Linked DNA regions of Homo sapiens: all the other regions are linked to region 1. Evidence: fine-mapped expression QTL. A gene starts in region 1. Each other region holds a variant in brackets. All regions are shown on one strand. Distances are from middle to middle. Region 1 holds the start of LYPD1 (LY6/PLAUR domain containing 1). Region 2 overlaps GPR39 (G protein-coupled receptor 39). Region 3 overlaps GPR39 (G protein-coupled receptor 39).

Evidence for each region. PIP is the estimated chance that this variant, and not a neighbour inherited with it, causes the effect.
Region 2: its variant is the best candidate, but not a certain one, in a credible set for the expression of LYPD1 in tibial nerve (GTEx, PIP 0.51).
Region 3: its variant is the best candidate, but not a certain one, in a credible set for the expression of LYPD1 in prefrontal cortex (ROSMAP, PIP 0.59).

What each region holds. Positions count from the first base shown.
Region 1 is chr2:132,667,510-132,672,509 of GRCh38, reverse strand. LYPD1 (LY6/PLAUR domain containing 1) reads left to right here and starts at 2,305. Exons shown (of 3, transcript NM_144586.7): 1 at 2,305-2,629; 2 at 3,973-4,110. The coding sequence starts at 2,578. It overlaps NCKAP5 (NCK associated protein 5), which reads left to right. Exons shown (of 20, transcript NM_207363.3): 20 at 1-722. RefSeq lists an enhancer at 2,479-3,442.
Region 2 is chr2:132,638,029-132,643,358 of GRCh38, reverse strand. The region is part of intron 1 of GPR39 (G protein-coupled receptor 39); the gene reads right to left. It overlaps LYPD1 (LY6/PLAUR domain containing 1), which reads left to right. Exons shown (of 3, transcript NM_144586.7): 3 at 1-73. Among named protein-coding and RNA genes, the nearest start is that of LYPD1, 30 kb to the left of the region's middle. The variant A/C (reference allele first, on the strand shown) is at 2,755.
Region 3 is chr2:132,599,684-132,605,026 of GRCh38, reverse strand. All of the region lies in intron 1 of GPR39 (G protein-coupled receptor 39), which reads right to left. Among named protein-coding and RNA genes, the nearest start is that of LYPD1, 68 kb to the left of the region's middle. The variant C/TC (reference allele first, on the strand shown) is at 2,156.

The DNA of each region.
Region 1 (5,000 bases):
CCATCTCACAAATCTCAATTTGATGGAAATGTTCATTTTAGTGTAATTTCAGATTCGTTGCCAGAGATTCAGGTGATAGTAATAAGTGTCATTCTGCTTCTGCTGAAAAATGAAAAGGGTCCTGAAGTGTGGACACTGATTGGGAGTGTGACATTGTATCAGAAATGACCGAATTCTATTCCCAATACCAGTTTTTCCTTCCAGACATTTCTTTAGATTGTCTTTTACTTAGTGCTTCTCTATGATCCTGAATATTATTTGATTTTTATCTTCTTGCTCTTTTTATTAAAATCTGGGCACTCTAAAAATGAAAACAAATTTCTATTTGCAATGTTCACTTTTAAAAATAAAATTAATGGTGCTACGAAGAATTCTTTTTAATATCCTTTTTTTTCTACAAAGACTGTTTATATGTAAGGATAAATTCTATTTTAAAGGTTATGTGTATTTTTTCTAGATGTGAACTATTTATAATTACTTATGTACAGGAGCTTGTAAACTAGGCCCAATAGAAATATTTTTAGGATCTATATGGCTACTTTAGCACATAATTGTTTCTTTAAAGAGTATTGTATGATCAGTGTTATTTGGTTAATTTGTGCAATTTGTTTTATTTTATCTTAAATGAAAATTATGTAAAATGTCCTTGTCTTTCAGACTTTAAAAAATCTTTTTGTTTCCTTTCTGAATAAAAGTTATATCACATTTGCACCCTCTGAAAACAGAAAATAACTTGCTCAAGGACCTTTTGGCCCAGTCAGTTACTTGAATCATGACTCACACGTGCTCTTACAATGGGTTCCCAGAAGGAATAAATAAATTGGCCCTTTTGCTCCAGAGATAGTAATTTAGCCAATTGTAAGATCAGAGTCTGCAGACAGGTGAGTAATGGTCAAAGCATTTCAGTCTCCCCGAGGGGTTAACCAAATAGAAATGAAAGAAGGGGGAGAGGGAGGGAGGGAGGGAGAGAAGGAGCCTGAGGCAGATATGGAACGATCTCTGCAGAGGAATTACAAAGAAAGTCATTTAAGCCCCTTTACAGACCAGCTCTGCTGGGAGGATGCAGAAATAAATGATCAGCGTCCCGGCGTGAGAGAGCTGCCCCCAGAAGTGGCCGGGGGAGAAAAGGGTGAAGAGGAGCTAAAGCTTAGGAGGCGATTTCCACGGAAATGGATGCTCCCTAAGGATGTGCGGAAAGGGGATGGGAATGTGCGGATTGGGGGCGGGGGCACCAACGCACTCCGGCGGGCAAGCGGTCTCCCGCACCACCTGCTGCAAGGCTCGGGAAGGAAGGCGAAGATAGCACCGGGGCATCCCCGGGAGTCCGCAAGGTGGGTCACTTGGACTTTGCGGAAAGAAGACGAATTTGAGGGGTGTGGGGAGCAGCCAGAGGCCGAGTCCGAGGCTGGGATGGCCTTTCAGGAGAGGACGTGGGAGTATGTGCTAATAATCGGTGGCTTTGGGGAAAGCAGAATGGAGCCGGCTGGCGTTTGGGAGACAAGGAATGGAGGAGAACAACCCTCTTCCTCACCCTGATTTGCTTTCTGGTAGGACCTCACGGCAGGTGTCCCCGGGACGGCGTTCTCCTAGGCTAGGCGACCAGGGCGGTGTCAATGCACCCTCCAGCGGTGCGCGCAGGCGGGAGAAGGGAGGGCGGCCCGGGCAAGTGAGACAGTTAAGGCAGTGTCCCCACCACACCCCCACCCAGATTGGCCACGCCGAGCTGGTTCTTGACAGAAGGCCTTCGCGGAGGAAGAGGGGGCACAGCTGCACAGGACACCCTACGGAGCCTGCGGGCGTGGAACTTTGCCAGGCGCACGGGAACGCGCGCCCTTCCTGTCAGCCTCCCGGGGCGCCAGGCTCCCGCGGCCCGCAGCGGGACAGCCTCAGTTGTGTGGGCTGGACCCAGTCGCTGGGGTACCGACCAGTCCTGGAAGGCGCAGAGGACGTGGAGTGGGGAGGCTGCCTTCCTATGTGCGAAGGGCCAGCCGGGCACGCAGTCCTCAGACCCTAGTCCGCACCCGGCAGGTCCCCACGGCACCTGCTGCGCCCTCCTCGCCGCTCCCCCAACCTCCCCATCTCAGAAAACTACCAGTTCTCTCCCGCCCCCCGGCGCCCCTTTCCCAGGAACGTGCGGAGGCGGGAGAAGAGGAAGACAGGAAGGGGGTGGGGATGTGAAGCGACCGTCCCAGCCTTCCCCGCCCGCCACCCCCACCCCAACTCGGCAGCCGTCACGTGATGCCTGGAGTGGGAGGTGGGGAGAAAAGGCGAGACTTTTGTGGGTGCTCCCGATCGCCAGTAGTTCCTTCAGTCTCAGCCGCCAACTCCGGAGGCGCGGTGCTCGGCCCGGGAGCGCGAGCGGGAGGAGCAGAGACCCGCAGCCGGGAGCCCGAGCGCGGGCGATGCAGGCTCCGCGAGCGGCACCTGCGGCTCCTCTAAGCTACGACCGTCGTCTCCGCGGCAGCAGCGCGGGCCCCAGCAGCCTCGGCAGCCACAGCCGCTGCAGCCGGGGCAGCCTCCGCTGCTGTCGCCTCCTCTGATGCGCTTGCCCTCTCCCGGCCCCGGGACTCCGGGAGAATGTGGGTCCTAGGCATCGCGGCAACTTTTTGCGGATTGTTCTTGCTTCCAGGTGAGAATACCCAGAGGCCAGCAGCCGAGGCCAGGTGCGCACAATCCATCTACCCGCCAGCCCTTTTGCCCCCAAGGCGCCCACCTCGGGGCCAGCCCTGCGCTGGGGCTGCCCAGCGGGAGTTGGCGGCCGCGACTGGTGCCCCGGGGCGCGAGGCTGGGAAAGTGTCCAAGTCCCGCGCTGCAGGAGGAGAGCGGGGAGCGGCGGGTTTGCGGGACTCCGGGCTGCAGCTTGTCCGGCTGCACCGTCGGGAGAAGCTGGGCTTGAGAGGAGGGAGGGTCCGAGCGGTGCTGGGTTCTGGGCGAGGGAGAGGGGGCGACATCTCCCGAACCCTGCCAAGTTGTCTGGCGCCTCCGGCACCCCGTGGGAGTGGCGCCGCCGACAGGTGAGCGATGCGCGAGGCAGCCTGCGGCCACGCTGAAGCTGGGTTGCTGCGCTCAGAGTGCGATAGATGTGGGGCTGCGGGAGCGTGGGTAGTTGGGTCTAGACAGGAGCGCGTACACCGAGAACAGCCAGGCCGAAGCGTCCAGAGGCGCAAAGGTCTCGCGTCCTCTCTCCAGTTCGCCTACTGGCTCCCGACTAAGCTCTGCAGAGCTGGAACCCCGACCACTGACCCTAGTCGAACGGTTGTCCTGAAAGCCGGGGCCTGGAAGAAAGGGCTGCGGGGTCGGGGATCCAGGGTGCGCGCGCTCACAAACGCCCTTTCCCACCCTCTGTGGCCATTCGGGTCGCCGCGGGGACGGCCCCGGAGAAGGGCCGCCGACCCGGGCTCGGGGACTTGCGGCGCAGCAGCGCTTGGCGTCTGGCACCTCCACCCAAGTTGTTCCCAGGTGGTCGCTCAGGGATCCTCAGAGCCCTGGCACAGAAACGCTGACTTTAAAAATTAAATAAATAAAAACTAAAAAGACGTCTGCGAATGTAATCACGAATGGTGCCAAAATAGTAATTAAGTAATTTGTAACCAATTAGCAATTAGGCAAATCCTTTGGCTTAGGCTGGAGCTAACGCACATCTCCAGAGCTACTTCACTCTTGCGGTGGTACCGTCCCCACCCTCCCTTCAACTTCTTGGGAAAAGGCCTGGGGTGGTAATGGATGGGCGCTTTGTGTCTAGAGCCGGGGTCCAGGGGTGGCGGGCACTATTCCACTTTCTTCCGTAGGACCCTAGGTACCCGCGCCGCCCCCTGCCGGTGTCAGCCACATCCAGCCCTACCCGGAGACCCAGGAGTGGTCTAAGCCTGCCAGAGGCTGGGAGCCGCCTGGCTCTGAGGCGTGGGATGGTCGTGATTTCCGGGGTGGGCTCTGTGGGGGCCGGATCTGAACCCGACTGCGTCTGTCTCGCAGGCTTTGCGCTGCAAATCCAGTGCTACCAGTGTGAAGAATTCCAGCTGAACAACGACTGCTCCTCCCCCGAGTTCATTGTGAATTGCACGGTGAACGTTCAAGACATGTGTCAGAAAGAAGTGATGGAGCAAAGTGCCGGTAAGAGCCTGGCAGCCCTCCCCCTCGCTCTTAAGCCTGGGCTGTGGGGTGGGAGTGAGGGGGCCATTAAATAGCAGGAAAAAGGACTGACTTTGATTTAATGCCCACACACTGGTTATCGCAGATTTAGTTTTACAGTGCTGGGAAAATGAAGAGTTCCAAGTTACTTTAATCTCATTAGAGTTAATTACCAAGGCTTCTCCCCAAGGGTCTTGGGAGGGGAAGTGCATGTAAATTAGTGGCTCTCCTCTTTTTATTTACTCCCTTCACCTCCCTATGCTAAAAGCTGATGGAGGTAGAAAATATATGGCTAACCAGCCCTGGCTTGGGCAACTAGACAGTAGCCTGTGAGCATTGTCAGCCTGAAATATGGAGCTAGTTGAAGCTCCCAGAGGTCAGAGCTTGAAAAATGTGTTTTGTCATAGAGGCACACCATATTTCCTTGAAGAACACTACAGGATCTTTGTTTAATTTTAGAACTAATGCATCAACTTCCAGGCACAAATTGCCAAGATCTTTCAAAGGAATGCCGTTCTCAGCCCTACCAGCTTAGCTGCTGGCTAGCTGAGAAGAAGTCCTGAGCATCCTGTGGGGGAAGGGGAGGTCTTGTGGGATAGCCCTCACTCCCTCTAGTTGACCAAGAATCTTCTCACTGAGGTAGAACTTTCCAACCCTCTCCTCACCCCCTACCCCAGCTGTCTTATCAGAAGTCAAAGTTCCCCAAAGTATATCTGGAACTTTGGGAGAATAGGTAGAGCTGTTACTTCAGTTTCAAGGTCAAAACCATAAACACAGACCTTGCCATTTTAAGGATATTAAAAGGATGGGAAATAGCATAACTTGATGGCTGATAGTGAATGAACCAAAGCCCCCACTTCCTTTAGTTCTGT
Region 2 (5,330 bases), 29 kb after region 1:
CCTTTGTTAATTTCCACAGGTTTCTCCTGTCAACTCCCAGCCTAAAACTTTGAAATATAAGCCAATTTGTTTATTTTTTCCTTTGAGTTTGCTATCCTGAGAACATCCAGTAAATCTAAAACTAAAATAAGTGAACTAACATATTGATCTGATGAAAAAATGGTTAAAAAAATACCATCTTAATTCAAGAGTTTATTCTGAATCACCTAGTTACAGATGCTGGATAGGAACAACAACAGCAACAACAAAAATTTCTGATTTTAAAAAAATACATAAGAAATCCGGGACTTTTCTCCCACTTCGAGGAGTACAGGTGTTCCCAGCCACTTGTGCTATTCCAAATTCATCTTAAGTTCCTGCTCCTTGTTTGCATCTCATCCAGCTCTGATTGAGAGGCTCATCTCATTAATTGTGAAAGAACTAGGAAAAAGACCATACCTGAGGAAGCCACATATTTTCACAAAGTTTTGCATTTTTTTTCTCTTTCCTGTCACTGAATTTCAGAGAACATGTACAACCATCTTCATCTGAGGAGTTATTGCCCAGAATATGGAAATTGCACGGTTTTAGATGTGAACTGTGCTACACCATGGGAGGTTGTACTTCAGGCGGTGAGAATCCAGAAAGGCAATTAGAAACACCTTGTACTAACCATGAGCTGAACATAGCACAGCTTTTAAAGCCAACAGACAAAGGCAATGAGAAGATAAGGCAGGCTTGTGAAACAAGGGGAGAGAATGATAACATTGCTTTTCTTCTGCCCTGTCTTTGCTCCTCATTCTCTTGATCTGTTGTTTACATGACCCTTACTCTTCTGACAGCTTCCCACATGCACTGGCCTGGTGTCAACTGTCCTTCACTGATCATCCCATCAAAAGCAGCAGAGTTCAGTAAAAAGCAAGACCCAGCCTCCAGGTACAAGGCAAAGGCAGGGGTAGATAAAGAGTTGTGGTGTTGTTTGTAGCCAGGATAAAATTCCTGCTCTGAAGTCAAAAATAAGTGGGAAGAAGCTCAGTGTGAACAAGTAACAGAAAACCAACTCAGAGTCACAATGATGAGGCAAAGAAGGGGAAGTTTGGTTTTCTGGGTGTAAAAGTAGGTAGATATAATAGCAAGAACAAACTTGTAGAACAAGAGAGACAAAGACCTGAATTAGAAATGCAGAGATTTTCATATTGTGCACCAGATGGGTGTTTTGAAATAACCTATAATAATGCAGAATATTTATTACTGAGTTTTTCCTAAGCCAGTTTCTGTGCTAAGCACTCTGCTAATTTCCCATGCATTTCTCACTCCTGACAACAACCTGGAGAGCTTTGACCTGGTGAGGTCAAAATAGTTATTCTCTTAATTTAACAAATGAGGAAGTGCAGGCTCAGAGAAAGTTAGTTGCCCAAGTGCAATAGCTAGGACACATCTTTGCCAGACTCCAAAATCCATGCTGTGTATTTTTTTCTCAAAACACAATATTGTTTGCTATTCATACTTTCAGTTTGAAAAATACAGAAACACAAGCAAGAAAGTAAACACCATAATTCCACCATGTAAAATGGATATAGCACAGTGCTGTTCACTGGAAATACAGAATGTGAGCCATATATGTAGTTTTAAATTTTCTAGCAGCCACATTCAAAGAGAAAAAGAGATGGGTGAAAACAATTTTAATACTGCTGTTTAATCCGATACACTCCCAAAATAATTATTTCACATGTAATTTCAACATGCAATCAATATAAAAATTATTGATGAAATGTCTTACATTTTTTAATACTAAGTCATTGAAACCCAGTATAGGTTTTACTCTTACAGTATGCCTCAGTTGGGAAGAGACACATGTGGCTAGTGTCTACAGTATTGGACAGCACCCACTAAAAGAATCCTTCCTAGCCCCTCCCCAGAGCAGCAAGGCTCCCCCTCTTCCCATTCCCCCAACTGTCCCTTTAACAACCACATTCCAGAGAGTTATATCAAACCAAGGAAGCCCCAAGGAACCTCCCACATAGCCTGTATTTGTTACACTACAATGCAACCAATGCTGAATTAAATCTCTGAGTATGCATTCTCAGCTATAGCGAGGAACAGGGTTAGCCAGTCTTTTCCTAGAAAGCCTTCCATATAAGGGAACTCTAAATCATTTAAAACTTATATAATCCTGAAAACACAAGGATGTATTTTGCATTTCTCATTCTAAACTTTGCCTAGCTATCCTAGAATAATGCAGATCATGCCAACTACTTGGCAGGGCTGTTGGGATAAACTTCCCCTGCCTCAACTGGAGGTGGGGAAAATGGCTGGCGCTTTTCTTCCTGTGTTTTGAAAGATAGTTTTGCTCTAGGAAAATGGAGCATTAGGCATACAGGTACAGCCAATGACAAACATGAGACATGTACCAGTGAGCACGGTAATGGAGGTGAGCCTCTCAGGGGAAGAAAACCAAATTTGACCCCTTGTAAAATTTGTCATTTTATAATGACAAGTAATTGCTCATTTTTACATTAAAAAAAGTTTGTTGTTCTAGATGATACACCGTTGAGAATAAATACTGCATCCCAAGGTAACTTTCTATTCTGGCTGTTTGCGATTGGCTCTACTCTAGCCCAGCTACCCTGTGGCTAAGACAAAGCTTTAAAGTCTTATTCACGCCCTAATAGAGTGTATTAAAGATTTGACTAAATGCATGTTTGGCTGCAATCACAATTTGGATTTGTATATCACATCTGGAAAAAATCTATAATTCTTTGGTCTGTGTGGTGT[A/C]ATGTGCAGCCCACAGTTAAATAACTTTAGTGTGAACTTGAATGAAGATCAATGAACTGAACCCACTCATGTAAAGCAGGTAAACTGTTTTAACTGAATTACTGATAGATCTGTATTATACTCCAGACAGCCTTGCACTCTGGGCTATGAAATACCTTCTTATCTGGTTTTCCACATAAAGTACTTTCATTTTTCCTCCTTGATCACTACACTAAAATGACAAGAGCCATTAGATGATGACACAGATTCATTCTTGGCAGAGTCATGTTGTTTAAAAAACAGAAGAAATGCAGATGTCTAACAACACCCTGCACTGAAGCCTGACATTTCAACAGCATTAGAGGCAGCCTGCTTGGTTTCATCTTAAGTGCATTAAGCTCTGCAGGCTGGGACATGGTGGCATTGATGTATCTGACACCATGCTCTATTTTCTCCCCTCTAACCTTTAAAGTCAAAGTAACTACTAGTGTGTTCCCCAGAATTCCATCTTAGAGTCATTAGAGATCAGGAGATCAAGAGGAGACCTTGAGACCAGCCTTGTAACTCCCTTGTCTTACACATGAGCAAACTGAGGTTAAGTGATTTGCCCAAGATCTCCTGGGGCCAGGGTGGTCATACTACTTAGAACACTGGATTGATTCTACCCTCGATTGCCAAGCAAGCCCATTATTTTTTTTTAACTGTAATTTTAGGGTTTTTTTCCAGCTTTAGACTCAAGTGCTGACCATTGACAGCATGGGATGCAGCAAGTGGCATGTCTATACAACACCTTTCCTATGCACTGTCTTGCTTCAGTTTTAGAAGCGGGTCCTCCAAGAACAGGCATTTGGCAAAACTCTGGAGAACGTTTCCTGCTCAAAGGAAGGTAAAGTCCCAGCCCAAGGGAGCCAAAGAAGATTAAAACAAAATATTACTTCAGGTCATGACTTGGTGACCTAGCCTACAATGACTCCATCTGTCTATCTATCATCTCTCTTCTACCCATTCATCCGTCCATCCATCTTACATAAGTACCTACTAAAAATGGATACTTAGCTTGTATTAAGCACAAAATATCTGGAAAGTTGATCACCTCCCAAGCAAAGATATTTTGTGTAATTTAAATAAATTCCCAATATTAGCTTTTCTACTTACTGTTGGAGTCCCATTTTATGGAATCATTGAAGCCTTGAGGGTGCAGGGGTATGTTGATGATGATTTAGGATTTCTGTGATTATTATGTCTGCTCTGTCCTCCTCCTGCCTGTTCCTGTCTCTATTTTTCAATTTCTCTCTAATCCTGACCATAGTGAGCAAGGGTTAGACATCTCCACCTCCCCACCAGCCCCCAGCCCTTATCCCCCTTTTATCCCCCCATTCAAGTTCTCTGTACTTTGCTTATTTACTTGGCAATTGCTTCTTGATGGCTGGGGCCTATTAAGGATCCTGTCCTAGGGACTGATGATACAAAGCTGAGCTGTACAAGGTGGCCCCAGCCTGGTTTTCTAAGGGCTAGGAGAATGGTCTGAGCCGAACAACACTGCAGCAACAAGAGCTGGATAAACATTCCCACAGGCAAGAACATTCACACAGAAAGTTAAGGAGAGTAAGAGTCAGCCTGGAAAAGGGCAGCACCAGCAGAGACAGGGCATGAGCAGGGGATGGAGAAACACAAAGGCAACTTACCTTCTGTGAGCTGCAAGGCTCAGCGTGGTTGCAACAAAAGGGTGGGTGGGGACAGTGGGAAACCAGCATGGTTAGAGAGCACTCCATCAGGCTTTGTGGACAATAAATTAACTTGCATGTAGTAGGGTGAGAAGCATCTGCTTGTCAACTGACATTTAAATAGCAATTGCCAGTGGAAAGTAAGCATATGGTTAGTTGAATGAAGAGCCAGAAAGAGACAAATACATCCAATAAAAGATTTTAGCACTTTCTCAATTTATATGTTAGTGTTTGCAATCTGCTTCTGCAAGTCAGCTGAGATGTTGATCTCACTCACTGACCTTGTCTGACCCGAGGCGTCCAAATCAGCACCAACCTTGGTTTAGTCTTTAACGGCTGAGACAGAATTCTCAAAGGAGTGTTCCCTGGAACAGCAGCATCAGCGCCACCTGGGAACTTCTTAGACATGCAAATTCTTAGGCTCCAACCCAGATCTCCTGAATCAGAGACTCTGAGGGTGTGGCCCACAATCTGGGGTTAACAAGCCCTCTGTTGACTCTGCTGCTCACACAAGTTGGAGAACACTGGTCTAAGAGAAGCATAAATTGAGGTGGAGCCCCTGGCTCAGTGGGCACTTGTAGGGACCCTAGCACTGTCACTGAAGCCTTTAAAGCATCACATTTTCATCAGTGTCTACAGTCAAAGCAGACGGTAGCTCCAAACTCCCTCCCTCTGGTTCCACTCCTAGACAACCGTCCTGCCAGTCCCACTTATTTCCACACACAGCTCTTCCTCATCCTGTCTTCTTTCTTCTCCTATCCTTTCTCCCTCTGTCTCTTTTTCCCTCCCCTTTCCTCTTATTTTTCCCCACCTTTCCTTTTTTGCTTCCATTTCTCCTCTTTCTGTACATGTTTCTCCAGTATGTAAAGCAAT
Region 3 (5,343 bases), 68 kb after region 1:
TATCACATGTATCTTATAAAGAGTAAATGAATATGTAAAGCACTTTGTATGATATCTGACATGTGGTAAGTACTCAGTAAGTGTTCATTGTTATTGTTATGTAGTTTCATTTCTTACCTTCTATATCCAGCCATCCACGTATCCTCAGCTTCAGCCACATTAAGCTGCTCCTTACTTTCCAAGCACCATGCATTTTTCATGTTTCTACTTCTTTCAGTTCTCTCTGCCTAAAACTCTCTCCTGCTGCTTCTCACCTAGCAAACTCCTATTTGTCTGCAAAGTCTAATTCAAATGTCCCTTTCTCTGAGATATATGCCTTAAGCAGAGCAGATAGAATGACTTGGCCTCCTTTTTATATGTTCATAAGACTTTATATATAACCTTCTATAAAAGCAGCACTTATCCTTCTGCTTTATGGTTAGTTGTTTAAAAGTCTGTCTCTGCCATCAGATAGCAGACCTCTCAAGAGACAAGTCATAACCGTCTTTTTGTCTGCAGTACCCAGCATGGGACTGTATGCTGTGTTTAATTGGATCCTTCTGTGTAGAGGTTGTATTCTCTCCCCAGGTCTGTTGGCTTGTGTGATGCCAAGGCCAGTGTCTTTTATGCCCTTATAGCTCAGAACTCAAAGATTTCTTTGGTGATAATGAATACCCTCCACAGCCATGGCTTCTGATAGGCAGTTCTCAGAGCTTCGGTAGTTTAAACAAAGAACTTGCCTTTCTTTTTTTTTAAATCATTCTGGCAAGGGGATAGACATCTATCATGTGCCCAGATATGAGTTGCCTGCTGAGGGAAGACAGAAGGAGAAAGTTAAGAAAATGACAAGACTAGTGACCTTGTGAAGTGGTGTACAGAACTGAGAGCCAGACCTGACCTTCTCATGTGGGATAGGTTATCTCACACATGCTTGGAACAACCTGGGACTCACAGTAGGGCAAGCATGTCTCGGTTAAGGAAAAGGATCTTGGAGGTAGGAGTCCTTGGTTGGGTTGTGAAGTATATTTATGCAAACCTCCACAGTCAGCACAAACACACATGAACACACACATGTTCACATCCACAAATGTGCACATACATTTTCCTGTCCCTCCCACTCCCCACACCCTGCACTCTGCCATCACTATAATGCATTGTTTAAAAATCAGGCCTAAATAACACAGTGTCTTTTCTGTCCTTAGCATAAGTCAGTGGCCTTGAGTCCTTCAAAGGCTGGAGGCATGAAAATGGTTTCTTAAAAAGAATGTTGACATTTTCAGCTTTTGGTGAATAGCTCCTGACTTCAGTGGATTTTAGTAACCCATTTCGCACACGCACGCCCACAAATGTACACCCTTTGTGATCACCTTTTCTCCTCTTTTTAGTTGACATGTAATAATTGTACATATTTATGAGATACAGAGTGATAGTTCAGTACATGTATATAGTATGTAATGATCAAATCAGGGAAATTAGCATGCTTATCACCTCAAACATTTCTCATTTCTTTGTGTAGGGAACTTTCCAAATCCACTCTTCCAGCTTGTTGAAAACATACGATATATCATTAACTATAGTCATCCTACACTGCTATAGAACACTAGAACTCATACCTCCTCTCTAGCTGTAATTTTGTATCCATTAGCCAACTTCTCCAGATCCTCTCCTCCCCTTATCAGACTCTTGATCACCACAATTCCATTCTCTACTTCTATGATGTCAATTTTTTTTATCTCCCACATGAGTGAGAACATGTGGTACTTGGTTTTCTGTGCCCGATATTTCACTTAACTTCTTCCAGTTCCATTCATGTTAAAGTGAATGAGAGAATTTTATTTTTTTGTAGCTAAATAGTATTCCATTGCATATATACATCACATTTTCCTTATCCATTCATCTTTTTATAAAAATTTTGGTTGATTCTATATCTTGGCTATTGTGACTAGTGCTGCAATAACCACAGAAGTGCAGATCTCTCTTTGATAACCTGAATTCCTTTCCTTTGGATAAATACCCAGTATTGGGATTTCTGGGTCATACGGTAGTTCTATTTTTAGTTATTTGAGAAACCTCCATACTGTTTTTCATATAGCTGTACTAATTTACATGATCACCAACAGTATGTCAGAGTTCTCTTTCCTTTACAATCTCACTAGCATTTGTTTTTTTTTTTTTT[C/TC]TCTTTTTAAGCCATTCTAGGCTAAAAAGGTCTCTGATCTCTGTGGTTTTGGTTTGTATTTCCCTGATGATTAGTGATGTTGAATTTTTTTCATATACTTATTGGCCACTTGTGTCTTTTTTTTTAGAGAAATGTCTATTCAAATCATTTGCCCATTTTACATCAGATTATTCAGTTTTTTGCTTTTGAGTTATTTGAATTCTTTGTAGATTCTGGATATTAGTCTCTTGCTGGATGTATAGTTTGCAAATATTTTCTCCCATTCTACAGGTTTTCTCTTCACCCACTTCATTGTTTCCTTTGCTGTGCAGAAGCTTTTTAGTTTGATATAGTTCCATTTGCCTATTTTTTGTTGTCTGTGCTTTTGAAGTCTTACCCAAAAAATCTTTGCCTAGACCAACATCCTGAAGCATTTCCCCTATGTGTTCTTCTAGTAGTTTTATAGTTTCAGGTCTTGCATTTATTTAAATCTTTATCCAATTTTGAATTAATTTTTGTATATGGTAGGAGATAAGAGCCTAGTTTCATTTTTCTGCATTTGGATATCTAGTTTTCCCAGCACCATTTATTGAAGAGAGTGTCCTTTCCCCAGTGTGTATTCTTGGCACCTTTGCTGAAAATCAGTTGGCTGTAAATATATGGATTTATTTCTGGATTCTCTTGTTATGTTGGTCTATATGTCTGTTTTTATACCATTATGCTGTGTTGGTTACTATAGCTTTGTGGTATATTTTGAAGTCAGGTAGTATGATGCTCCCTGCTCTGTTATTTTTGCTCAGTATTGCTTTGGCTATTTGGGGTCTTTTGTGGTTCCATACTAATTTAAGGTTTTTTTTTTTCTATTTCTGTGAAGAATGTCATTGGTATTTTGATAGAGATCTGTAGCTTGCTTTGGGTAGTATTGTCATTTTAACAATATTCTTTTAATCCATGAGCATGGGTTATCTTTCCAATTTTTTTGTCTTCAAGTTCTTTCATCAGTGTTTTGTAGTTTTCATTGCAGATATCTTTAGCCTTTTTGGTTAAATGCATTTCTAACTATTTTTCATAGCTATTATATATGAGATTGCTTTCTTGATTTCTTTTTCAGCTAGGTCGTTATTGGTGTATAAAGACACTACTGATTTTTGCATGTTTTTATCCTGCAACTTTATTGAATTTGTTTATCATTTCTAAGTTTTTTGGTGAAGTCTTTAGGCTTTCCTATATGTAAGACCATGTTGTCTGCAAAGAGGGACAATTTGATTGCCTTTTTTTCAGTGTATATGCTTTTTCTTTTATCTAATTACTCTGGTGAGGACTTTCAATACAATGTTGAAAAAGAGTGGTACAAGTGGGCATCCTTGTCTTGTTCCAGTTCAGTATGATATATGCGGTGGGACTGTCATATATGGCTTTTATTATGTTGAGGTATGTTTCTTCTATACCTAATGTTTTTTAGAGTTTTTATCATGATGGAATGTTAAATTGTGTTAAATACTTTTTCTGCATCTATTGAAATGACCATGTGGTTTTTATCCTTCATTCTCTTGATGTTGTGTATCACATTTATTGATTTGTGTGTGTTAAACCATCCTTACGTCCCTGGAATGAATCCCATTTGATCAGGGTGTATTATCTTTTTGATGTGCTGTTAGATTTGGTTTGCTAGTATTTTGTTGAGGATTTTTGCTTCTATGTTCATCAAGAATATTCACCTAGAGGTGTGTGTACTTGTCTGGTTTGGTATCAGGGTAAATCCTGGCCTCATAAAATCAATTAGGAAGAATTCCTGCCTCTTCAATTTTGGGGAAATAGTTGGAGAAGAATTGGTGTTAGTTCTGATTTAAAAGTTTGGTGGGCACATGTTCTTACTTACAAGCAAGAGCTAAACTATGGATATGCAGGGGCATATTCTGGACACTGGAGATGCAGAGGAGGGAAGGTTGGAGGAGGGTGAGAGAAGAAAAATTACTTATTGGGTTCAATGTATAGTATTCAGATGACAGGTACACTAAAAGCCCAGACTTCACTACTGTACAATTCACCAATGTAAACAAAAACCACTTGTGCCCCTAAAGCTATTGATTTTTTTTTTTAAACAACAACAAAATAAGTTTGGTAGAATTCAGAAATAATGTGATCCAGTCCTGGTCTTTTCTTTGTTGGGAGACTTTTTATTACTGAGTCAATCTTGTTACTCATTGTTGGTCTGTTCAGGTTTTCTATTTCTTCTTATTTCAATCTTGGTAGGTTATATGTGTCCAGGAATTTATCTATTTTCTCTAGATTTTCAAATTTGTTGGCATGTAGTTGTTCATAATAGTCTTTAATGATCCCTTGTATTTCTGTGATATTAGTTGTAATGTCTCCTTTTTCATTTCTGGTTTGAGTCCTTCTTTTAGTCTAGCTAATGTTTTGTCAATTTTATCTTTTTAAAAAATGTTTCATTCATTGTTTGTATTTTTTCCTCTATTTTGTTTAGTTCTGCTCTCATCTTTATTTTCCTTTCCTTCTACTAATTTAGGTTTGTTTTGTTTTTGCTTTTCTAGTACATTGAGGTGCATTGTTAGGTTGTTTATTTGAAATCTGTCTACTTTTTAAATGTAAGCACTTATTACCATAAACTTCCCTCTTACCACTGTTTTTGCAGTATCCCATAGGTTTTGTATATTGTGTTTCTATTTTCATTCATTACGAGAAATGTTTTGATTTCCTCCTGAATTTTTCATAGACTCACTGGTTGTTCAGGGACATTTTGTTTAATATTCATGTATTTATACAGATTGTGATTACTTTTTCATAGGGCTTCTGCGTAGCCAAGATAATGGTAACCTCCAAAGTATAGACAAGCATGGATGGGCCCCCTTTGGGAGACTGAGCTATGATGTGGAGAGTCAATGTGGATGGACAGCATTTGCGGGTAGACACCCAGTATCTAAGAAGGATTCTTTCACTCATATCTCATCCATGAGCAGATCTGTGGTGTTATTAAGAGGGACTCCAAATGTCATTTTCCTGGGGAGATCACATCCACGGCAGGTCTAGCTTATCAAGGAGAGTTGGAGGAGCTGGATCCCAACCTCAGTTTACCAGCTTGAATGGTCTGCTGACACGCCATGATGGTCTTGCACTCCTCAACCCACTAGAAATCAGAGATGGCGGCAATTCACCAGCGCCCTCACTACCACACCTTGCTCCCATGCTTA